7 linked regions of the Homo sapiens genome follow. The protein of the gene in region 2 interacts with the protein of the main gene of each other region in a pairwise test. Each region holds a gene or a part of one and is shown on either strand. Other genes may lie near its edges.

What was found.
Region 1: the proteins of TEAD4 (region 2) and DYDC1 interact in binary tests that used the Homo sapiens proteins (3 or more experiments, as listed by UniProt).
Region 3: the proteins of TEAD4 (region 2) and CCDC125 interact in binary tests that used the Homo sapiens proteins (3 or more experiments, as listed by UniProt).
Region 4: the proteins of TEAD4 (region 2) and RUNX1 interact in binary tests that used the Homo sapiens proteins (3 or more experiments, as listed by UniProt).
Region 5: the proteins of TEAD4 (region 2) and SSX2IP interact in a two-hybrid assay, tested with the Homo sapiens proteins (2 studies listed by BioGRID).
Region 6: the proteins of TEAD4 (region 2) and NUTM1 interact in a two-hybrid assay, tested with the Homo sapiens proteins (one large-scale study listed by BioGRID).
Region 7: the proteins of TEAD4 (region 2) and PRDM14 interact in binary tests that used the Homo sapiens proteins (3 or more experiments, as listed by UniProt).

The regions. Positions count from the first base shown.
Region 1 is NC_000010.11:80,335,605-80,339,755, reverse strand, and holds the end of DYDC1 (DPY30 domain-containing protein 1), read left to right. Parts: intron 1-602; coding exon 603-659; intron 660-1,184; coding exon 1,185-1,289; coding exon of another isoform or gene 1,290-1,340; exon of another isoform or gene 1,341-3,570; coding exon 3,571-3,600; 3' UTR 3,601-3,651; downstream 3,652-4,151. UniProt on the Homo sapiens protein: Functions as part of axonemal radial spoke complexes that play an important part in the motility of sperm and cilia. Plays a crucial role during acrosome biogenesis.
Region 2 is NC_000012.12:2,965,897-2,969,396, reverse strand, and holds part of TEAD4 (transcriptional enhancer factor TEF-3), read right to left. Parts: intron 1-3,500. UniProt on the Homo sapiens protein: Transcription factor which plays a key role in the Hippo signaling pathway, a pathway involved in organ size control and tumor suppression by restricting proliferation and promoting apoptosis.
Region 3 is NC_000005.10:69,326,302-69,329,801, reverse strand, and holds part of CCDC125 (coiled-coil domain-containing protein 125), read left to right. Parts: intron 1-3,500. UniProt on the Homo sapiens protein: May be involved in the regulation of cell migration.
Region 4 is NC_000021.9:34,829,303-34,832,802, forward strand, and holds part of RUNX1 (runt-related transcription factor 1), read right to left. Parts: intron 1-3,500.
Region 5 is NC_000001.11:84,659,462-84,662,961, forward strand, and holds part of SSX2IP (afadin- and alpha-actinin-binding protein), read right to left. Parts: intron 3,070-3,500; coding exon 2,994-3,069; intron 2,915-2,993; coding exon 2,737-2,914; intron 1-2,736. UniProt on the Homo sapiens protein: Belongs to an adhesion system, which plays a role in the organization of homotypic, interneuronal and heterotypic cell-cell adherens junctions (AJs).
Region 6 is NC_000015.10:34,355,775-34,358,235, reverse strand, and holds the end of NUTM1 (NUT family member 1), read right to left. Parts: coding exon 745-2,461; 3' UTR 501-744; downstream 1-500. UniProt on the Homo sapiens protein: Plays a role in the regulation of proliferation. Regulates TERT expression by modulating SP1 binding to TERT promoter binding sites.
Region 7 is NC_000008.11:70,057,753-70,061,252, forward strand, and holds part of PRDM14 (PR domain zinc finger protein 14), read right to left. Parts: intron 1,091-3,500; coding exon 888-1,090; intron 1-887. UniProt on the Homo sapiens protein: Transcription factor that has both positive and negative roles on transcription. Required for the maintenance of embryonic stem cell identity and the reacquisition of pluripotency in somatic cells.

The sequences.
Region 1 (4,151 bases), on a different chromosome or scaffold from region 2:
GGGTCAGTTAGGCCACCCTGCTGCTTTAGAATGAAAAGGTAGATGGCATAGCAAGGTTTGGCTGACTAGAAGAATGTTTCACATTCAGAAAGAGGCCTCCCTTATTGGGCAGTATATTCCTACTGCAGTGCTCAGAGTATTAAAGAGGGCATTGCTCAGGTCCTGTGGGAGGACTTGTGCATTGGGCCAGATTAGTTCCTGTAGAAGTGTTTACTTCTTTCTCGGTATGTGCAAAACTCTACTTAAGTGTGGTTTTCTCCTTAAAAATCTCTTGTTCTAAGGTTCTATTATAATTTTTATTTTGTCACTTTTTATATTGGCAGATAATTTGGCTTCAGTTTGACTGTTTCAGTCCATTTCATTTTTAAAAAACTTTTATTTAATTATATATAAAACATGGTTGCCTTCTATTAGTATAGAGTATTAAATAAGACTGTGATCTGCAGTTTTGTAATGTGTAATCAGATCATTCTCTTTCAGAGTGACAGCATTTTTGCTTTAAATTCATCATAGCATTGTGTAAAAGTAAAAATGCCAAAAATTAAACATGAAATCAAAATGGAGTATATTCAAAGTATTTTCTTAATTTTTATATATTATAGGAGATGAGAATGAATATGGAAAATCTAGTTAGGAATGAAGATATTCTACATTCAGAGGTGAGAAGAAAAAGTCATTCTATGTTATGTGAAATGAATTGAGTATCCTAGAATGTAAAGCTTAATTTTGATGCATAAGTAGCTAAATTTTTAGCAAGTATATTATCAAAACTGATAGTCCATGTATATTTTCCGGTGATAACAAGTCACAAATAATGTGCTTTGAAGCAAAATCTCACAATAGGTAAAAATTGGACATTCAGTTTGTGTTTGGATTTTTAAAAACTAGGCTCTCTTGAGATATTGAAGCTATTTACCACATAATTACTTACAATTATTTTAAATTTCTGCAGGTATTTTTAAAAAAAGTTCTAGTATTTATTACCAGAATTGTAGCTTTGCATTCTAGGATACTCAATTCATTACCAGAATTCTCTTGTCATTAACAGAAATTGGTTAATTCCACTAATTAATAATGTTGAATTTTAATGTTATAAATCAGAAAATTTTTAATCAAAATTGAAAGAAAAGTAATGTATTAATTTTGAAATCATTTAAAAGTAAAAATCAATTTTTTGATTGTAGGAAGCAACACTAGACTCAGGCAAAACACTAGCTGAAATCAGCGATCGTTATGGAGCACCTAACTTGAGCAGAGTGGAAGAACTTGATGAACCAATGTTTTCTGATGTCAGTATCAGTGTGTTTTGTGAAAAAACTCGTTTTTGTTTTTGTTTTTGATTTTTTTTACTTAGGTAAAGCCTAGGGAAAATGAGGCTAGGCCAGGATTGGTTGGCAAATAGGCCTTTTGCTTCAGAGAAAGAAAATCAGTTCCCTGGTTGCGGATTATATTCCTAATTGGCATTCTGCCCTTTTGTGAAGTGTGTCACTGGCTTATCTATATCTCCGTATCTGTGACTTCAAAACCTCTTCAAAATATGTTTTAAAATCATTTTGTGAAATATATAATCTTTAAATTTGGTGTGGGGGGCACGATTTTTGTTCTCAGTAGCAAACCCTGGAACCAAATTAATGCCTTAATGAGAATGCATGCTTCTCCAGTATGTAAGTACATTTGTTTATTTAAGAAACATGCCACATCTTCCATATGCCAGGCACTGTGCCTGATGCTGTGGTGAATAAGGCAGATGGCTTTGACCTTATGGAGTTTATTGTCAGGGGAGAAACAGACAATTAGATGAACATTTAATAGTCATGGTTAGTGGGACCACATAATTTATTGTCCAAACCAGTATGCTTTTGAGAATGAGAGCCGGATCAGCAGATGTAAGCCAGGACTGTCCTGGAAGAAGGGTACATTTTGGTCACTTTAATTGGTGTACACGGACAAGGGGGGACAGCCAGCACAGTTGAGGAACCTCAGTCAGGGAAGGAAGCTAATGATTTGCTACTCACTGGTGGCATGGGAGGCTGAGGATAGTGCTCCAGGCAGAGAGCATGGAAGGTGTGAAGACCCAGATAGGAGAGCGTGTAGAGGGAGTGAGGCAGGGAGGGGTGAGAGCTGAGGCCAGGGAGAAAGCAGGGGCCAGACCATGAAAGCACTTGTCATTTCTGTTCAGAGGCTTAGATTTTATCCTGAAGGCAGTGGAGACTCATATGATGAGAGCTACATTTTGCAAAGACCATCTGGTAACAGTGTGGGGAAGAAAATGGAGAAGTAGGTGTCAGGAGATGGCTTAGGAGGTAGTAATCTAGGGGACAAGATGTCGATGGCCTGAAGTAAATGTTGTTTTCAAGAGCTGTTCAGAAAATGGAGCTGCACAGACTCAGTGCTAATTGTTTAAAGTTTTATTAAAGGTCAGCTATGATTTGGCACTATGCAGGGAGCTAGAAAATGCCAATGAACAAAATGGATTGGGCTTCTGCCCTTGGGGGCCGTGGGCCAATGGGGAAGCTTCTTTGAGGGACAGAGTAGGGAGAGACCTGACCTGGGCTGGACAAGTCTTCCTCAGGAGGTGAAGTTCAAGGAATTAGCCTGAGATGAGCCCAGAGGAAAGAGACAGCAAAATGCTTTCAAGGGACTGAAGTCATCCAGTATTAATGGCTAACGTCCATGGAGCTAGGAAAATGGTGTGATTTTAAGCTGGAGAGGTGGATAAAGGCAGAGCACACTGGGTCTTGTATGTTGCCTTAGGGATTTTGGACTTAAGTGCAGTAGGAGTTATTGAAAGGACTTAAAGATTCAATCTGTGTTTTTATAAGGTGGAGAGAGGATTGGTGTGGAGCAGGAGTGGAAAAAGGGAGACCACTTAGGAAGTTATTGCACTGATCCAGATGTAAGATGACTAGGGTTAGACAGCAGAGATGGAGGGAACTGAGTGGATTTAAGATTGGCTTACAGGATCAGTGCGGGGCAGGGTCAGGATGAAGCCTAAATGTCTTCCTTGGGCTACTGAGTTAAGAGTGTTAACATTTGATGAGTTGATGAACATAAGAGGAAGCAGGTTTTTAAAAAATGATGGCTTCAGTTGCAGAGATGTTGACTCTCAGGTGGCTCTGAGATATGCAGGTGAAAACAGCCAAGAACAGTTGATGTTAGGAAGGGGCCCAGGCCGGAGATATAAATTCAGCAGTCATGGGCATATGTGCTGAATGAAGCAAGGGGATTGAGTAAGGTACCTAGGAGAGAGTGCAGTGTGTGAAGGCCTGGGGGCTCAGGGAGGAACCATTAGCAATTCTAACATTGAAGGGATGGCCACAGGAAGAGGAGCCTACAAGAAGGATGAGAATGCATAGTAAGAGAAGTAGAAGAAAGGATGGAACAATAACTACTTTGAGAACATAATTTATGGTTATATTCAATTTGAGTATCATTTGAAATCATCTGAAACTCCCAAAAAGTTTCATTCATGTAGTCACATAGAAGTTACCTAAAGTTTATTTCTTTGGCTTGTGCCTTTTCACAGTTCTAATTGTATTAAGGAATATTTACTTTTTGTTTTGCTTTTAGATTGCATTAAACATTGATCAAGATTTGTAGGACCAACCAACCTAAGAGCAATAAATGTTTTTGTTTGTTTCAAATTTCAAACCATGAGGTTCCCAATTTGTATTTTTTTCCTTCAAACTTGAACTCCCCTTTTTTTTTCCTCTAAGGACTGCTTATGAATGGGCTTCAAGAGTAGCCTCAAATTATTATTTTGGATCCTTCAGTTCAACTGGTTATTTATACATTTCCATTGGGAAAATAGGAGAGTTTGCTGAAGCAACCAAAAGAGGCAAATGGGAGGTGAGCTGAACTAATATGTGCGTCTATGCAAGAGCAAGACTGCCTGAGAGGACAGTTGCTGGCTGGGTGCAGTGGCTCACACCTGTAATCCAGCGATTTGGGAGGCCAAGGCAGGTGGATCACTTGAGGTCAGGAGTTTGAGACCAGTGTGGCCAACATGGTGAAACCCCGTCTCTACTAAAAATACAAAAGAAAATTAGCCGGGCGTGGTGGTGGGCATCTGTAATCCCAGCTACTTAGGAGGCTGAGGCAGGAGAATCACTGGAACCCAGGAAGCAGAGGTTGCAGTGAGCCAAGATCAT
Region 2 (3,500 bases):
CTGAAACCCGAGGATGCTCAAGTCCCTCATATAAAACGGTACAGTGTTTGCACATAACTTACGCACATCCTCCCATGTGCTTTAAATCATTTCTAGAGAACTTATCATACCTAACACAACGCATGCACATCACTTCATTTGCATGGATTCAATGCAGCATTCAGTGAGCAGCAAATTCAAGTTTTGCTTTCTGGAACTCTGTGGAATGTTTTCCCCTGAACACTGTCGATCCAGGGTGGGTCGAATCCATGTGGAACCTACAGATACAGAGGGCCCACTAGTTTTATGTGGTTTTACATAATGAAGTAATAGACTTCAGGTCAGATGGACCTAACCTGCTACTGCTGTAAAGGGTGCCTACCTTCTAGAAATGAGAAATGACAGCACCCAGATGCTGGGCAGGTTCTAAGTCCTCATCCAGCCTCTGTTAAGACACTCACAGGCCCAGCACAGTGGCTCATACCTGTAATCCCAGCACTTTGGGAGGCTGAAGCTGGAGGATCGCTTGAGGCGAGGAGTTTAAGACCAGCCTGGGCAAAATAAAGATAGCAAGACCTTGTTTCTACAAAAAGTTTTAAAAATTGGCAGGGCATGGTGGCACAAACCTGTCATCCCAGCTACTTGGGAGACTGAGGCAGGAGGACCATCTGAGTGCAGGAGTTTGAGGCTACAGTGAGCTATGATCACACCACTGCACTCCAGCCTGGGCAACAGAGCAAGATCCTATCTATTAAAACAAAACAAAACAAAAAAAACACCAGCCTGGGAAACACAGCAAGATCCTGTCTCTATGAAAAATAAAAATTAAAACAAAAAAAATGTTAGGCGGGCATGGCATCACCTGTGGTCCCAGCTACTGAGACCTGAGTAGCTGAGAAAGCTGAGGTGGGAGGATCACTTGGGCGCGGGAGGTTGAGGCCACAGTGAGCTGTGATTGCAACGCTGCACTCTAGCCTGGGTGACAGAGTTAAGACCCTGTCTCACAAAAAAAAAAAAAAAAAAAAAAAAAAAGGCCGGGCGCGGTGGCTCACACCTGTAATCCCAGCACTTTGGGAGGCCGAGGTGGGCAGATCACCTGAGGTCGGGAGTTCGAGACCAGCCTGGCCAACATGGAAAAACCCTATCTTTACTAAAAATACAAAATTAGCCAGGCATGGTGGCAAATGCCCGTAATTCCAGCTACTCAGGAGGCTGTGGCAGGAGAATCGCTTGAACCCGGAAGGTGGAGGCTGCGGTGAGTCGAGATCACGCCATTGCACTCCAACCTGAGCAACAAGAGCGAAACTCCGTCTCAAAAAAAAAAAAAAAAAAAAGACCCACATGTTTGAGATCAGATCACTGGTTGGGGGTAGAGGAAGACCCACAAAAATGGCGAGCTCAATACTTAACAGCTCAGGATATATAAACTTTCCAAAACCAGATGTGGCTTCCAATGTGGCCAGAGGGTCACAGAGCTTAGTGAGTAAAGGTTTCCCTTGACACAGACCTTACCACAGCACTGGCCCACACAGGCTTATGGTTTAATGGGGCAGTTTGAGAGTCAGATTGACCTGGGTCCAAACTCCAACTGCAGTATAACTTCTACAGTGTCCCCTCTGTAAAGTAGAGGTTGAAAAACAAAACAAAAACAAACCAAACCTTTCTCACAGGGCTGAGAGGATGAAATGAGATGATGAAGGCAGAAATGTCTAGAATAATGGTCTAGCACCTAACAGGCATTAAAATGTTCATTTCCCTCTTCCTTCGTTTTTCAGCCCAAAACCCCAAGCCTTTTCCCTCAACATGAATGAAGAGTAAGTCCCACTCTATTCTAGACTTACATAATTGATGCTTTGAACTTAAATGCAGGATGTTACACTTAGACCTATTACATTTCTTCTTGAGATAAGTATATGTTCAACATTGCTCAATGTCAAGTAATTTTTAAAAGCTAAAAACTAAAAACAATGTTTTAAAGTCAGTAGGGCATAGTTAAATATAGTATAGTCATAGAATGCAATGTTACTTGGATCCTTAAAATTATGGTTTTAAGTATTTTTTATGACATGCACTATTACCCATTAGATAGCATTCAGTAGGGAAAAAAACGGGATAGAGTATAATTGCAATTATGTTAAAATATATAGATTTGCATGAACACAAATTTGGAAGGACATTCACCGAAATACCAGCCCACCCGAATTATAGTATTATGTATCATTTTTTTCCTTTATGCCTTTCTTTATTTTCCAGGGTTCCTACAATGTACATATATTAATTTTAAGAGAGAAATATTTTTAAACTTCATCTTTCTACTTAATGGCAGCATTCCAGTCAACTGAGATGATTTTGAACCCTGGTTCTATCAGCCAATGTTTGCTACCCTCAACGCCCATAAAAACGAGAAACAGGGTCAGGTGCGGTGGTTCACTCCTGTAATCCCAGCACTTTGGGAGGCCAAGGCAGGTGGATCGCCTGAGGTCGGGAGTTCAAGACCAGCCTGGCCAGCATGGTGAAACCACATTTCTACTAAAAATACAAAAATTAGCCAGGCGTGGTGGCAGGTGCCTGTAATCCCAGCTACTCAGGAAGCTGAGGCAGGAGAATCGCTTGAACCCAGGAGGCGGAGGTTGCAGTGAGCCGAGATCGCACCACTGTACTCCGGCCTAGGCAATAGGGCGAGACTCCATCTCAAAAAAAAGAAATACGCCGGGCATGGTGGCTCACACCTGTAATACCAACACTCTGGGAGGTCAAGGCGGGCAGATCACAAGGTCAGGAGTTCGAAACCAGTCTGACCAATATGGTGAAACCCTGTTTCTACTAAAAATACAAAAAAATTAGCTGGGCATGGTGGCGTGTGCTTGTAATCCCAGCTACTTGGGAGGCTGAGGCATGAGAATTGCTTGAACCCAGGAGGCAGAGGTTGCAGTGAGCCAAGATCACGCCACTGCACTCCAGCCTGGTGACAGAGCAAGACCCATCTCAAAAAAAAAAAAAGAAAGAAAAAGAAATGAGAAACAGAAGACACAGGCCACACAGGCTCCTGGGAGAGGCTCGTATCTATGGAAAACATAGAGGACTAAGCCAAAGACAGCCCTGCGGCACATCACGGGGACCTCTTCACAGTAACACAAGCTCAGGAGTTAGGAGTCAGCATCCAGCGTAGTGGGTCAAGCAGTCACACATCCATCTCCCTGCTGTATCAGCCAGACCACACTGCTTTCTCTTGTACCAAGAAGATCATTAGACTGAAAAGGCTTACTGAACATTCCTCCACCCAAGTTAGAGTTGTTTTCTCCAAGACTTGGTAGAGTGAACCCAGGTTGGCTACTAGGTATCTCACTTCATTTTCACACTCTCCACATATTTTTGTTCAAAAATCTAACCTAGGCTGAGTGCAACCGTGTACACCTGCAGTCCCAGCTACTGAGGAGGCTGAGGTGGGAGGATTGCTTGATCCTGGGAGGTCAAGGCTGCATAAGCCATGACCGCATCACTGCACTCCATCCTGGGTGACA
Region 3 (3,500 bases), on a different chromosome or scaffold from region 2:
GCTGGGCTCGGTGGCTCATGCCTGTAATCCCAGCACTTTGGGAGGCCGAGACAGGTGGATCATCTGAGGTCAGGAGTCCGAGACCAGCCTGGCTAACATGGTGAAATCCCATCTCTACTAAAAATACAAAAATTAGCTGGGTGTGGTGGCAGGCACCTGTAATCCCAGCTACTCAGGAGGCTGAGGTGGGAGAATCACTTGACCCAGGAGGCAGAGGTTGCAGTGAGCCGTGATCACGCCATTGCACTCCAGCCTTGGTGACAAGAGCAAAATTCCGTCTCAAAAAAAAAAAAAAAAAAAAAGACTTGAATCCTGGCTGGGCATGGTGGCTCACACCTGTAATCTCAGCACTTTGGGAGGCCGAGGCAGAAGGATTGCTTGAGCCCAGGAGTTTGAGACCAGCCTGGGCAATATAAGGAGACCTCGTCTCTACAAAAAATACAAAAATTAGCTTCTACAAGAACAAAAAAATTAGCCAGGTGTGGTGGCACATGCCTGTAGTCCCAGCTACTCGGGAGGCTGAGATGGGAGGGTCACTTGAGCCCAGAGGTCGAGGCTGCAGTGAGCTGTCACTGCACTCCAGCCTGGTCAACAGACTGAGACTCTGTCCATATAAAAATAAATACTTTAATCCTAAACGTTGACACATCTATTTTAGACAGCATATATTGATATGTTGGTTCAAGTCGTCTTTTAAAAGTCAAAGGTAGGCCGGGCGTGGTGGCTCACGCCTCTAATCCCAGCACTTTGGGAGGCCGAGGCCAGCGGATCATGAGGTCAGGAGATTGAGACCATCCTGCTTAACACGGTGAAACTCCATCTCTACTAAAAATACAAAAAATTAGCCGGGCGTGGTGGCGGACACCTGTAGTCCCAGCTACTCAGGAGGCTGAGGCAGGAGAATGGTGTGAACCCAGGAGGCGGAGCTGGCAGTGAGGTGAGATGGCGCCACTGCACTCCAGCCTGGGTGACAAAGCGAGACTCCATCTCAAAAAAAAAAAAAAGTCAAACGTATAAAGTATGAAGGAACCTCTGTGTTTATCTATTCAAGATTACCATATAGTACAGAATCAGCTGTAGATATTCTTAGATTTTGTAGTACTGTTAAAATACAATATTATAAAAATGGTATATGGAAAAATACTCTAATCCTACTAATTTATTTTTATCTTTTGTTTTTCTTCTAATCTTTGTTCTAGTACAGACAACTTTGAATTCTGCTTTTTATGTTTTACACTTGTATATGTGAGCATTTATCATGTTGCTGCCTAGTCTATACTACATAGTATTTTTATTTTTATTTTTATTTTATTTTTATTTTTTGAGATGGGGTTTCACTCTTGTTGCCCAGGCTGGAGATTATTCTTAAACTATGTTAAATACACTATAACTCTAATACTTATTTAATTAATTTTGTTTAATTACATAGTATTTTATAAAGTTGTTAAACCAAGATTTAACTATTTCTTTATTGTTCAACATATTTTATTATTTTCTAATTTTGTCCAATTAGAAATTAAATGGTAGAGTAAATTGCTGAATGCATTGAACATAAAACAGGCATAAATACAGACTCATTTTAATTTAAAAAATTAAAACAAAAAAAGTCCAGGCTTGGTGGCTCACGCCTATAATCCCAGCACTTTGGCAGACAGAGGTGAGCGGATGGCCTGAGGTCAGGAGTTTGAGACTAACCTGGCCAACATGGTGAAACCTTGTCTCTACTAAAATACAAAAATTAGCTGGGCATGGTGGCAGGTGCCTATAATGCCAGTTACCTGGGAGGCTGAGGCACAAGAATTGCTACAACCTGGGAGGCGGAGGTTGCAGTGAGCTGAGATTGCGCCATTGCACTCCAGCCCTCAATAAAACCAAAAGGACACTTTTATTCCTAGCAAAACCTAATAGTCTGGAGAACATGTTCCATGGAGCACACTTTGGAAAATGCTGATACAGAAACAATTTTAGAGCTCTGAAGAACCAAAAATCTAGTCCCCTAAATTGACAATTGAAGAAAATAGTATTCAAATTCAATAAACATTGATTTGGCTACCATAGTTGATTTCAAATATATCAGTGGTGCCCAAAAATGTCCCAATAAAGTAGTTATGCTTAAACCCCTGTTAAGAAATAAAACAGGCTCTAAGAAGTTAAATGACTTACCCAAGATCAAAAAGTGGCAAGTGGTGAAGTGAGATTTGAACCCAGACCTCTCGAGTCAGTGCCTTCTCCGTTAACACATCCTGCTGCTTCCCTGGTCATCAACCCTGAATACATTAAACTGGTTGGATAGTTTAGTGACTTCAAATATTTTCACTTTCTTGGAAGTAATGTGTTTCAAAAGTGAAGTTTAATTTGTATGGTATTTCATGTTACCTTACTATCAGCATATAAAAAGTGGGAGAATAGGCCAGGCGGGGTGGCTCATGCCTGTAATCCCAGCACTTTGGGAGACCGAGGCAGGCAGATCATGAGGTCAGGAGATCGAGACCATCCTGGCTAACGCGGTGAAACCCCATCTCTACTAAAAATACAAAAAATTAGCCGGGCGTGGTGGCGGGCACCTGTAGTCCCAACCGCTCAGGAGGCTGAGGCAGGAGACTGGCATGAACCCGGGAGGCGGAGCTTGCAGTGAGCCGAGATCTCGCCAGGGCACTCCAGCCTGGGCGACAGAGCAAGACGCTGTCTCAAAAAAAAAAAAAAAAAAGTGGGAGAATATACAGTCAGCAGTCCCTGAAGTTACATTTTATTTTATTTATTTTTAGAGACAGGGTCTTGCTCTGTTGACCAGACTAGAGTGCAGTGGCGTGATCACAGCTCACTGCAGCCTTGACTTCCCACCTCAGGCTCCCGTGTAGCTTGGGACTACAGGTGTGCACCACCATGCCCAGCAGTTTTCTTTTTTTCCTTTTTTTGTAGACATGAGGTCTCACTGTGTTGCCCAGGCTGGTCTGAACTACTAGGCTCAAGCAGTCCTCCTTCTTTGGCCTCACAAAGTTCAGGGATTACAGACATGAGCCACCATTCCCAGCCTGAAGTTAAGTTTAAGAAACAGTAGGCAGGGATAAAAAACAAACAAAACAACAACAAAACCTCATTATATTCAACTCTGAATAGCAGGAAGGCGTACCCATGATGCCTGAATTTATGTGGTGCATTGAAAAATATTCTTAGCTAACTCTACAATTGCTTACTCTTTCCTTTTACAGCTTTTCCCCCTTATATTGACCAATTCCATTTTCTTCTCTGCTGCCTGCCTAATCCTGACCACACCCTTCTTAACACAGGCCAGAGGTTGCCCTTAACAAGCAGGAGTCTACTGCACTAGAGGTAAAACACAGCCTCTCAAGGGATTATTCTTTGATTCAATAAATATCTTCTTATCTACCTTGACAAAATAGGTAAATCTCCTTTTTAAGGAAATAATCTTGTAAAAGAACCAAGATGATTTTATAAAAATCTGGGAAAAAGTGGATCCAGAATCTGTTAGATGTTGCTCA
Region 4 (3,500 bases), on a different chromosome or scaffold from region 2:
TGGGTGTGCTGGCCTACATATTTACAAGCATAAGGGGAAAGTTCAGAACATATGCAGTCTACAGAAGAAATATTTCATCACTAAGATCAAGCCCTGCAGTGAATCTCTGCAGTCATCCCACTGGTTTTCATTTCTTCTCTCTCTCTCCCTTCTTTCCTTTAATTATTTTTATTTATTCCTGTGAACACCTGATTCAGGCTTGTTGTCGGGGTAAGATTATAATGCTATAGACCTGGAAAGGCTCTCATACCCTACTACACCTTGTTAAAAGCTATTTTTAAATGAAATCATTCACCTGTCATGTTTATAGCCTATTATATAAATTAATTTCTCACATTCTGAATATGTTACTTTGTGTAACCATTAAATGACCATTTATAGATTCACATATGAGGATTTCTGGTGTTTGATTGTAGCCTCCACTTTCAAGGTAATCAAATAGTCCCTACTCCCTTTGTTTTCAAACTTCAAATTGCTAGAAGAGTAAGGAAGAGAGGGAAGGAGAGGGAGAGAGAAAGGAAAGCAATGCAATGCAGTTGGATATTTTACCTCCAAGGCTGGAAAGAGGATTTATCTCCTTCTCCTACAGGAAGGTGGAAAGGTTTTCTTCCTTTTGTCTATCCAGATGATAAAGAGAGAATCAGACGGACTTAAATAACTCTATACAACTGAGAAACAGGGTCATTTCAGTATCTCAGAGTTTTGCAGACAGCAGCACCAGAATATAGTCCTTCCTAAGTAACTTTAATTTTGGGGGAAAATAATTAGCAAGACAGAAGTTACTTGGAATACTAAAAATCAAGAGATGATTTGAGAGGTCAGGGACCCCTCTTGGCCATATGGAACACTCAAAGTGAGGCACGCATACTCATAAAAGTGGATTAGATGTTGACTGGGTTTGGATGATAAGCACTTGGTCCCAATGAACTTCAAAAGTAGGAAGGCAATGGCCCCAATAAAGTAAACAGAGTGGCTGGTAAGCCTTCTCCCTGCTCATATACCCCCTCTTTCACTCTTATTTAGAGATTCATTATTCTGAGTTTTCTTTTCTCCCAAACTTTATAAACAAATGCACATGTACCAAAGGAGACAGTTTATTAAGGTGCCCACCACACAGCCTGGCCCCAAAATTCTTCTTATTATCAACATCTAATTATAATAGAACATGTTCAATACAAGAATGCCAAGTGAGTGGATAGCCCAACACTTTTTCCATCCCTCCTTTGGTGATTGGGATTCTTCTCGACACTGGTCAGCCCTGTAGTAAATCGATCCTTGACCCAAGAGTGCACGCCCAGGGAACGGCCATCCCACTTGCACTGGCTTTGTAGCAAGGAAGGTCTGGGTTTGCGTCCAAGTTCATCACTTACAATCTTTGAGATACTGGGCAATTTTTAACCTCTGAATTTCGATTTCTCTGTCTATAAATGATACCACAGGATTGTTGAGGGAATGGAATAATATGTACAAATGTCTGACCCACGTCAAAATAGCTCACAACTGGTCCAGTTAAAGAGTTAAATCTTCTTCCTACATGCTTATGACAACCAGCATGCAGAAGAACAACAAAATGGGCTTCCTAGTTTATCTAGGTTTCAGTTTTCTGTACCAGCATCTATTACTCCATCCTCATATTCCCAGAAAGGAGGAAATTACGACACCTTAAATGTGATACATCATATTTGGTCAATCAGGGGTGAAATTTTAAAATCACTCACTCGGGTTGCCCAAACCCATCTCTAGGTGGGAGTTGTGACTGAACAGGCATCGGTACCACTAGCTCTAGAATCTGCCCTGTTCTATCTTTTGAAATAAATTAAAAAAGAATTCTAAGACTCGATCGTAGAAGTTAATGATGGTGTCCTGACTGGGAGAAACGTGTAGCCCAAGGGTCTACTCATGACAAAATGGCTTTCTATTCTATTTCATGACAAAATGGCTTTACCAGTTTAAGACCTGGTAAAATAGGAAGTTGAAATAAACCTCAGCCCTTTAATAGTTAAGACCCCAACAAATAAACAGTGGTTTAGTGGCATGACAACTTGCCCCCTCTCAATCTGTACCGTGCTTCAGATAATTTGAGATGTCTATTTTGAGTGACCCTCCAGCACATGTGATTCTAGGTAAGTATTGGTGCTATTCTATATCAGTATTTTCTTGCTGACAGAGTCAGAGGAGCTGGCATAACCCTTCTGACAAAGTCCTAGCAAGGTAGGGTTCCTGAGCCTTTCTATAAATCCCGGCAAGCTCGCCAAACCCCCGGTTACTGACATTTCTGTAAAGCTGAAAAACATTCATGCATCTGGACAGCACCACTGTGGAACTACTCTGACAAATTGGATATTTTTCTGAAAACTACCACTGCCATTTCAAAGAAAGCCAGAAACACATGCTGTATTTCTTAAAGTATCTTCGTAAATATAACATAGAAATTTCAGGGCTGAGCCTGGAAAATAAGCATTTTCCTACTGTCAAGAACAAACTGAAGGTCTTGGCTGAACAAGACTTGCATATTATACCTGTTAACTTTCCAATTTCAAGAGAAAAAGCCCAAGGGTCTACTCAAAACATGATTAGCGTAAAACAGCGTTTTCTTATAGGAAAGAAAGAACAAAAGGAAAAGGAAAAGTTGTTTCACATGAAAATATTCTGGATACTTATTTTTTAAAAGTTGTTCCTAAAATTTTACAAGTGAAGTACTGAATATCAAATTCATATTTTGGAAAGAAAGAACACCAGCAATATAGTTCACACATTCTTTAGAGTAGCAACCAAGCCCGTAGGAACTCTAAAAGCGAGTTATGATTTCTTAAATGTTGCAGAAGTAAAAGTTTTCAAGAGGAACAAAAAAGGGGCGATGCTTAGTGTTAAACCTGATACTCTACTAAGCATATAGGTCTCCAAAGAGCTGACGAATGCCCATCACACGGTCCACAATAATGCTTTTGCCCAGGAGCTTCAGAGGATGAGAACTCAATGTGCAACTTCCCCCCATTTTTTTGTTTTTGTTGTTAAAGAGGCATATCTGATGAAGAAGGAAATCAGATTAGATTCACTCTTCACCAAGAAACAGAGCAACTCAATGGTGACAATATCAATTTTCCCCCATGTGGCTGAATTTTCCATTGCCTTTAAAAATGCTTAAGACTTTTTGTTCCCATATCAGCAGAAAAAGGCAAATCCCTTAATCAACCTAGTAGTATAAATGGCCAGTTAGGCAACGAGAGACTAAGAAAACAGTCTTCCTTTTGATTTTACACATGAATAGATGATGTGAATTAGTTTTCTGAAGATTATGTGAATTAGTTTAAATGACCTTAAAGGCAAGATGAAAGAATCTCCTTGAGAGTTGTATCCTCTTTGGAAGCAAAGTATTGTTTTGCCCCAAGCCCATCTCGCTCACTGAACATACCATTTGACTTAATTTACCATATACGCTTGTATTTTGGAATTTAAAAAAAATCAATGTACACATTTTAAATCATTATTAATGATTATTA
Region 5 (3,500 bases), on a different chromosome or scaffold from region 2:
CTGAACATTTTAAAGCCTATTAGAATACTACCAATCTGTTAGAAAAATTATTGGCCGGGCGCGGTGGCTCATGCCTGTATGTAATCCCAGCACTTTGGGAGGCAGAGGTGGGTGGATCATGAGGTCAAGAGATCGAAACCATCCTGTCCAACATGGTGAAACCCTGTCTCTACTAAAAATACAAAAATTAGTTGGGCGTGGTGGTGCATGCCTGTACTTCCAGCTACTCAGGAGGCTGAGGCAGGAGAATCACTTGAACCCGGGAGGCAGAGGTTGCAGTGAGCTGAGATGTCACCACAGCACTCTAGCCTGGCGACAGAGTGAGACTCCATCTCAAAAAAAAAAAAAAGAAAGAAAAATGAATAATTATTGCACATTTCTCAGATTGAACAGAACTCTCTAACCACAAAATGAAAATAAAAAATTCGGCTGGGCACAGTGGCTCATGTCTGTAATCCCAACACTTTGTGAGGCCAAGGTGGGATGACTGTTTAAGCCCAGGAGTTCGAGACCAGCCTGGGCAACAAGACCCTGCCTCTAAAAAACCAAAAAACAAAACAACAAACTCATTTTACCTGAATTTTCGGTATATGTTTTACAAGTAAGTAGGTCAAATAATAAATGAAATGTGGATGCTACCTAGGCATTCCAACATTACATCTTATTTCTCTTGCTATAATGCTTCAAAAATCTTTCCCTACAAAAATTAAAGAGAAAAGGGAGCTAGAAAAATGGATCTTTTAAAACTAGAATATATATTTAAGAGGTCATTGTTCATCCACTTAAACATGTGAATTATGAAGAATTATACAGGATACTACCCACTGGCTGAGTAATGGGGGTGAGGAGGGTTTAATCACTGAAGAAAGATCTCCCTGACTTACCACATACTTTTGCTAACTGAAATCTGATGATGAGACGTTAAGGTTGGACCAAAAACTGAAGATGCTGCAGTAGTAATGGACACTATGCTAACCTTGAAGAAGTATTAGTGAATGCTAAGAACTGACTAGAAGTGACAGAGTTTGAGATAAGAGGTTAACTACATATAAGAGGTCAAGCAGGCCTCAAAATGGAGAATGTAAAAGATATTCGGGAATTTGAGACCAGCCTGACCAACATGGAGAAACCCCGTCTCTACTAAAAATACAAAATTGGCCGTGGGTGGTGGTGCATGCCTGTAATCCCAGCTACTCTGGAGGCTGAGGCAGGAGAATTGCTTGAACCCGAGAGGCAGAGATTGCAGTGAGGTGAGATGGTGCCACTGGACTCCAGCCTGGGCAACAAGAGCAAAACTCTCTCTCAAAAAGGCCAGACGCAGTGGCTGACGCCTGTAATCCTAGCACTTTGGGAGGCTGAGGCAGGCGGATCACGAGGTCAGGAGATTGAGACCATCCTGGCTAACATGGTAAAACCCCGTCTCTACTAAAATACAAAAAAAAAAAAAAAAAAAAAATTAGCCGGGCATGGTGGCGGCTGCCTATAGTCCCAGCTACTCAGGAGGTTGAGGCAGAGGAATCACTTGAACTCGGGAGGCAGAGGTTGCAGCGAGTCGAGATTGTGCCACTGCGCTCCAGCCTGGCAACAGAGCAAGACTCCGTCTCTTAAAAAAAAAAAAAAAAAAAAAATTTAGGTAATTTTTTTTTTTAAATGTTAAGGAGAAAAAAAGGTAAGTGCTGGGATGGGCTTATCAGCTGGACTGATTTGTGATACCACAAAATAAATAATCCTCAAATACAGGTTTAAAAAACAAGTTCTGGTATCTTGCTGTTAACTAGCATTTTCCATCAACATTATTTTCAGATTTTTATCACTAATGTGAACTTGCTGAAACCTACGATTTTAACTTATACGTAAAGCAATTAAGTAAAATGAACTTTTCACCATTATGTGATTTTTTTTTCAGATCTCTGCATATATTACTCCCATTCTCTGGAATGCTTTCTCCATGTTTTTTTTTTTAACCTCAAAAATACTTATTTTCTAAGAAGCAGTGAAAATGTCACTTTCTCTGTGATGCCTTGATTGCCATAACTATTCTGTTCTGCACATTGTACCACCTTATTACAGCACCTAACACATGTAATAATCACTTCTCCACGTCTGTCTTTCCCAAAAAGAGCTTCTTGAGGGAAAAAGTCAAAATCTTTTTAGCCTTTCCTTTCCAGAGACTAGAACATAAAGAACACCCAATAAATTTATATTTGTTTCCCAAAGTTAACAGAAGTTTCACTCTGTGAAAAGTAGAGTACATAATACTAAAACAACTGAAAGGATATTTGACATAGTGGTTATGATTGTGAGCTCTGGAGTGAGAAACTTGGATTCAAATCCTAGCACTGTCATGTGTGATACTGGGCTACTAAATATTATGCCTTAGTTTCCTTATCTATAAAATGGGGATATTTATAGTATCTAAATCATCAAATTATAATATATGAAATAATCTCATATGTTATGAGGAATATTATAAAATGAGACAATGCTTATAAAGCACTTCTTAACAGTGCTTGACATGTATTAATTCCCCGGAAAATCATCTCCAGCATTTTTCAGGAAATGTCTGAAAACACATAGGAACAGTCTTTTCAGTTGTCACAGTAATTGAAAGTAGCATAGCAGTTGAGTGTCCTATTCAAAATACCAATAGTGTCCCCATTGAGAATGCCTACCACATATTTTAATTATTCTTATTAGCAATCTGAAGACTGTATTAGAGAGGAAAGAGCCACTTACAGTTCCTGTACTATCATCTACTCTTTCTCTAGGTTTCTTCTTTTGGGGAGAAAGAAGAGAAATCATTTCCTTTTTCATTTGTTGAAGAACCTTCTTAAGTTCTGCATTTTCCATTAGGATTTGTTTCTGACGATATTCATAATCATTCAAGAGAATTTTATACATTTCATCTTCATTCCTGAGAAAGAAACTGTCAGTATGAAAATGCAGGATAGAAGGAAGTCTGATTACATTTATCAATTTAAACTGGACTTTACCTGGCTTCAGTTTTACCAGTCCTCCAGGAGCCTCTTTTTCCATCAGCTCTCCCGACATAATTCAAAATGTCCATAGCTACAAACATGAACACATAAAATTAATTCTTACCATACATGCTTAAGCATCTAAAACTCTAATGCATTCTATACACGTAAGTGGTGAAAGTGAACCTGGTATATAGGTTAGGATTTGGGCTTAAACAGCCTAATTTTCGAGTTTCTAGTTCCACCACTTGTAAGCAATGAGATCTCGGCACATTATTTAACTGCTTAGCCTGTTTCTTCTTGGACACTGGGAATAACAAAAGTATCTACCAAAGAGTTGTTGAGAAGACAAAGAAATAACTATTAAAGCACCCAACACAGTAGAGTGAACACAGTATCTGGCGCACAGTAAGTACTTAATAAATGTTACCTTATCATTATTAATTTCATTATCAGGGTTGCCTGATAATGGCCCACAGGCTGGCTGCCTGATTTTGTAAATAAAGCTTTATGGGAACACAG
Region 6 (2,461 bases), on a different chromosome or scaffold from region 2:
TGCACACCTGTAGTCCCAGCTACTTGGGAGGCTAAGCTGGGAGGATTGTCTAAGCCCAGGAGGTTGAGGCTGCAATAAGCCATCGTTATGCCACTGCACTCTGTAGCTTAGGCTACAGAACGAGACCCTGTCTCAAAAAAAGAAGAAAGAAAATTAGATCTCTATCTCAGAGATCTAACAGGTAGAAAAGCATCTTTCTATCTATAGACTTCAAGGGAGGCAGATAATTATAAGATGCCCAGATAAGCCTTCCTGACACCAAGTCCAGGCTTGTGAAGAGGGGATGTATAATGTGATCATTGGAGATTCCTCAGTTTGGAGACTTATCACAGCCTGAGAGCCAGTCTGTTGCCAGGAGGAGGCTGCAGGGAGCCAAGATAAGGCTGGAGACAAGATTTATGGATTTGTAGAATCTAAGACTACCCCTACAGCCTTTCTTCATAGCATCTTAACCCTATCTAGCAGCAAAGACACGAGTACAGAAAAAGGGCACTCTGAGAGCATTTTCCAACAAAACACTTTATTCATTTTTTTTCTATATAGCTCCTTCCAAAGGTAATTCCCCCTGCAGCCTAGCCAGTCTGACCTCTCTCTCCATGCTTGCCACTTTTGCAGAACAACAAAACAACATTGGGATGAGATTCAACATTGGGATTCTCCATTGGTGGGCAGCAGGGGTGGAATCTACTCTGGGGCACCCACCTTTAGGGACTGGCAAGTGGGGTCAGATGGTCCCGCTGCTCCCTACTGGCTACGACGTCGTTTCTTCCTTCTGCCCGTGACAAAACTGTCACACCGCCTTTTACGAGGCTGTGAGGGTCGAACTACTCCCAGAGCTAGGGGTTTCTCCCTGGGGACCCCAAGTTGAGCTCCTGAGTGGGGTGTCTTTTCAGTAGGGGCTGGACCTCCAGCTAGAGCTCGCTTCCCAGACTTGGCAACAGGATATGGAAGTTTGCTGGGGCCTTTTGCTCCAGCAGGGAGCAGGTGGGATGCTCTCTGGCTGCCCTGACCTCCTGAGGCATGGTGAGGACTGAGGGGATGCTCCCTTGGTGAGAGGCTAAGTTTAGAGGCCAAGAGGTAAGCAAAGTTGGAGAGTTCCTCATCCTCTTCCTCTGCTTCCTTTTTCTTTTTCTCCTTTCCTTTGGCCCTGTCTGCTGACCTGTGTGTTTTACTAACAGAAGTTTCTCTCGGAACTATGGCATTCCTGGTTCCCCTTCTAGGCAAAGTGCTTCCAAGGCCCTGGTGAGAAGATGTTGCTTTGGGAGTCCCAGTTGTGTAAGACTCCTGACTCTCTTGTAAAGGAGCAAGGTTTTTAGGCTTGGACAGATCAGGATCCACCCTGCCTTCTCCTTGGGGGTCATAAGAATGAACATTCAGTGGGCAGGTGTCCTCGCTGACCCTTAGTTGGAGGCCACAGTCATCTTTAACATCTAGTATGTTGACAGGTTCTATGGTTTCCAACAGAGGAGAAAAGGAATTGCCTCTGCTCCCTGCCTCTTGACTGGCTTCAGGCAAGGAGGAGGCATCCTCAGTCCCCATGATAAGGAGATTGCCTTGGCATGTGGGTGGAAGGGTTTCTTTGGAAGACCCCAGTGTGGAATCACCACTTTCTAGCAATGGGAAGCAACCTTCTGCCCACAGATCACTGGGATGCCCTACGGTTTCACAGCTCTGTTCTTGATTTTCTTTGGACCTCAAGGGTGGGCTGTTGGCCCTCAAAGGTCCTGGCAAGCTGCAATAGTTTCTCTTTTCTAGGGCAGCTGCCGCAACTGTGCCTCCACAGGGAATCACACTGCTCTCCGTATCCCCAGGTACTAGGGTTTCTCCAGGACCCAGGGAAATGTTGCCCCTGGAGCCCAGTCCCTGGCAGCCTTCCTGATACTCAGTTACACACTTCTCAACTTGGAAGCTCTCTATGACCTCCTCTATTTGTACAGGCAGCTCCAAGCCTACAGCATCCATCTCACTGCTCAGCCAAACTCCTGGGCTGAGACAGACATCGTCCCTCTCCCCAGCTGCTCTAGGGGAAGGATTCTGATCATAACTCTGAGCCATGGGGGTACCTCTGTCATCTCCCCACATGGCTCCTGAAGAGCCTTCCCAGGGCACTGCTAAAGGCTCCTTCCCTTGAGGAAGCACTCCACGACCCCCTGTTTGTTGTCCTTTCTGCAATCCCAGGACTTGCTTTTCTAACCCTTGTCCTTGCAGAGGAGCCAGCTCTGCAAGTCCAGCATCCAAACTGGGAGTGCTCTCAGGCTGGAAGCCTCCCTGCCAACAAAGGGGCAGAGCCTCTGAAGTCCTATCAGCCACCAGGCAGTGCCCAGGAGGCCCAGCGCCTCCTAGATGGCCATCCTGATGTAGAGATACCTGGTTTATAACCTTCCCAGACCCTCTCCTCTCCACACCCAAGGGTCCCGGAGTTCCCTGTGGAGCTGCAAGTTCTGGCTGCAGGTCCCAGCTG
Region 7 (3,500 bases), on a different chromosome or scaffold from region 2:
CGTCCTGATATTTTTAAATCCTTTTAGAATTACACAAATGCATGATAACTGTAAATGTATTCAAATTTTATAGGAGTATATAATATAGTGATTAAACATGACTTTTCCAGAAGCTTAGGAAGGAAGGGAGAAATTAGGACAATTTTATGATGATTTTATTCTCAGTTTTCAAAACAGGAAAATGGGCTCAAGGTCGTAGCTGCCTGAGGTAGTTCCGACAAGGCCAACAGTCAAGCAAGAATACATCTGTGCCCAAGCCTCGTCCTCCTTTTAATTAAGCCCAAGGGAATATTGTACTTTTTTGCAGCAAGCCTAGCAGAGCATCCAGGTATTTGGAATGGCTCCGTAATGTCATTACTGATTTTCTGTCTTACAAAATCCTCGGCCCACTGTAGAGGCCTTCCGCTCCTTGGAAGGACCGTGCCTTCACTTCCTTCTTACCTATACCTGTCAACACACCTGCACAGATTTGGAACAAGGCGCAGTTCCCCAGGAGCACATGCCAGGCTCTCTCCTGTCTGGAACAGCTCGACTCTTTCCTGCCCAACTAACCCTGCCACCAGTATAAATCAGACACCCCATTTGTCCTTCTATACTTGGCTCAAGGCCACCTCTGTGCATCTTTCATAATCCACGTGTCCAGGTGGCCGTGGACACTCCTTCCTCCATGTTCCTCCCTCTGTGGGTACCTGCATCCTAACACATGTGCATCGCTGTGCCTATTCACGCCTGCCTGTTCCGTAATACTATCCTCTCCTCCTTCAGAGAGGGTGTCCGTCAGGCATCACAGCCCTGCAGCTAGCACCTACAAGGCAACTCCCCGTGTTCAGGAGCTTGGGAAGGGAGAGAGAACGTGATGGTGGGTCATGTGTCCTCCTAATACTCACCTTGTGAGGCCGGTGCTTCTCATGAACATGAAGAATGTGGATCCGAAGCCGGTCCCGCTTCTCAAAGGATCGTTTGCAGAGAGAACAGGGAAATTTCCTATCGCCCTTGTCCACACAGGGGGTGTACTTGAGGTGCTTATCTCTGTAATATTTGTAGGTAAATACCTTCCCACATCTTTCACATCTGTAGCCTTCTGCAGACTCTGTCAAACACAGCAAACACAATGTCTCTTCAGTTACTTCCCTCCCTAGTTCCTTCAAGAGGATATTTATTTATTTATTTATTTTTAGCCAAGAATTCTTTGGCTACTTCAAGAGGAATTTTCTTTTTTTGAGACAGAATCTTGCTGTATTGCCCAGTCTGTAGTGCAGTGGCACGATCTTGGCTCACTGCAACCTCTGCCTCCCAGGTTCAAGCGATTCTCCTGCCTCAGCCTCCCAAGTAGCTGGGATTACAGGTGCCCACTACCACGCCTGGCTAATTTTTGTATTTTTAGTAGAAACAGGGTTTCATCATGTTGGCCAGGCTGGTCTAGAACTCCTGACCTCAGGTGATCAGCCCCTCTTGGCCTCCCAAAGTGCTAGGATTACATGCGTGAGCCACTGTGCCTGGTCAAGAGAATTTTCTTTTCTTTTCTTTTTTTTTTTTTGAGATGGAGTCTTGCTCTGTCACCCAGGCTGGAGTGCAGGGGTGTGATCTCGGCTCACTGCAACCTCCACCTCCCGGGTTCAAGTGATTCTCCTGCCTCAGCCTCCCAAGTAGCTGGGACTACAGGCACACACCACCACGCCCAGCTAATTTTTGTATTTTTAGTAGAGGTGGGGTTTCACCATCTTGGCCAGGACAGTCTTGATCTCTTGATCTTGTGATCCACCTGCCTCGGCCTCCCAAAGTGCTGGGATTACAGGCATGAGCCACCATGCCCGGCCGCCAAGAGAATTTTTAAAAACCTTTTTATTACAGAAAAATGTAAACATACCAAAGTGAAAATAATAGTGTAATAAACCCTCATGTGCCAAACACCAAGCTTTGACCAACTCGTAACTAATTTTGTTTTCATTTATATCACCGCTCGCCATAGTAGATTATTTTAATACTAATTCATCCTTTGACTCAAAAACATCTAACCGTAATCTTTAGAAGATGACATATTTTTAAAAAGCATAATTGTGACCAGGCAAAGTGGCTCACGCCTATAATCCCAGCACTTTGGGAAGCTGAGGCAGGTGGATCACCTGAGGTCAGGGGTTCAAAACCAGCCTGGCCAACATGGTGAAATCCCGTCTGTACTAAAAATACAAAATTAGCCAGGCGTGGTGGTGCCTGCCTGTAATCCCAGCTACTTGGGAGGCTGAGGCAGGAGAATCACTTGAACCTGGGAGGCGCAGGTTGCAGTGAGCCAAGATTGCACCACTGCACTCCAGCCTGGGCAACAACAGCAAAACTCCATCTCAAAAAAAAAAAAAAAAGCATAATTGTGCCAGGTGCAGTGGCTCACGCCTATAATCCCAACACTCTGGGAAGCTGAAGTGGACAGATCGCTTGAGCCCAGGAGTTTGAGACCAGCCTGGGCAACATAGTAAGACCCCATCTCTACAAAAAAATAATAAAAATTATCTGGGCATGATAGCACACGCCTTTAGTCCCAGAGGCCGAGATGGGAGGATCACCTGAGCCTGGGGAAGTTAGTTGAGGCTGCAATGAGCAGTGATTGAGCCACTGCACTCCAGCCTGGGCAACAGAGCAACACTTTGTCTCGAAAAAAAAAAAAAAACATAACCATAATGTCATTGTCACATTGTCATACCTAAACGATTAACTCTTATTCTTTTATAGAAACATATATGTACTTATATATGCACATTTATATACACACATATATATTTGTTTAATTACTTTCTGGTCAGTCCATTCAAATTAGGCTTCAAACAAAGTCTACATGTTGTATATGGTTGCTATGTCTCTTAAATATCTTAACCTATAGGCTCTCTTTCCCTTTTGTTCCTTGATATGTACTGTTGAAGAGACCATTCCACCAGCCCCATTTAAGGGCAGTGCAACCCTGCAGCTCTTGAACACATTCCTGCCTGGCACTTGTTACAAGGTTAATACACTGAGGCACTGAGGCCGACCTATTTCTCTTTGTGCCTTTAAGATCAGCCTGAGTTACAAGCTCAGAGCAGTCACCAGGACACCCGCAGCTCACAGTGCTGTTCTATTCTACACAATTCAAGGGACCTTCTTAGTTTATACTTCATTACTCAAAACTTGTGGCAGATTCCAGAGCTAGAATCTTTATGTATAGAGTAAGGTTGAAAGCATCTTGACTTCCCTAATGCACAGGGTTACCGTGATGACTAATTTAATTCTAACACTTACCGAGTCTTACCAATGTGAGTGATACTATCACTGAATGGCAGACAAGACTGAGAGGTAAATCTGTTTTTATCAATGGAGGAGGGAGGAGGAGAGAAGTTAGAGAGGGTGCAGCTAGACTCTAGCAAAGCAGGTCCCACGTCCAGGGGTGTCTATGTGTTGGGGGAAGGCGAGAGAACAGGGGCCACCTACAAAAGCATCCCTGCAGAGGACACTCTGGATCCCAGAGGATAAAG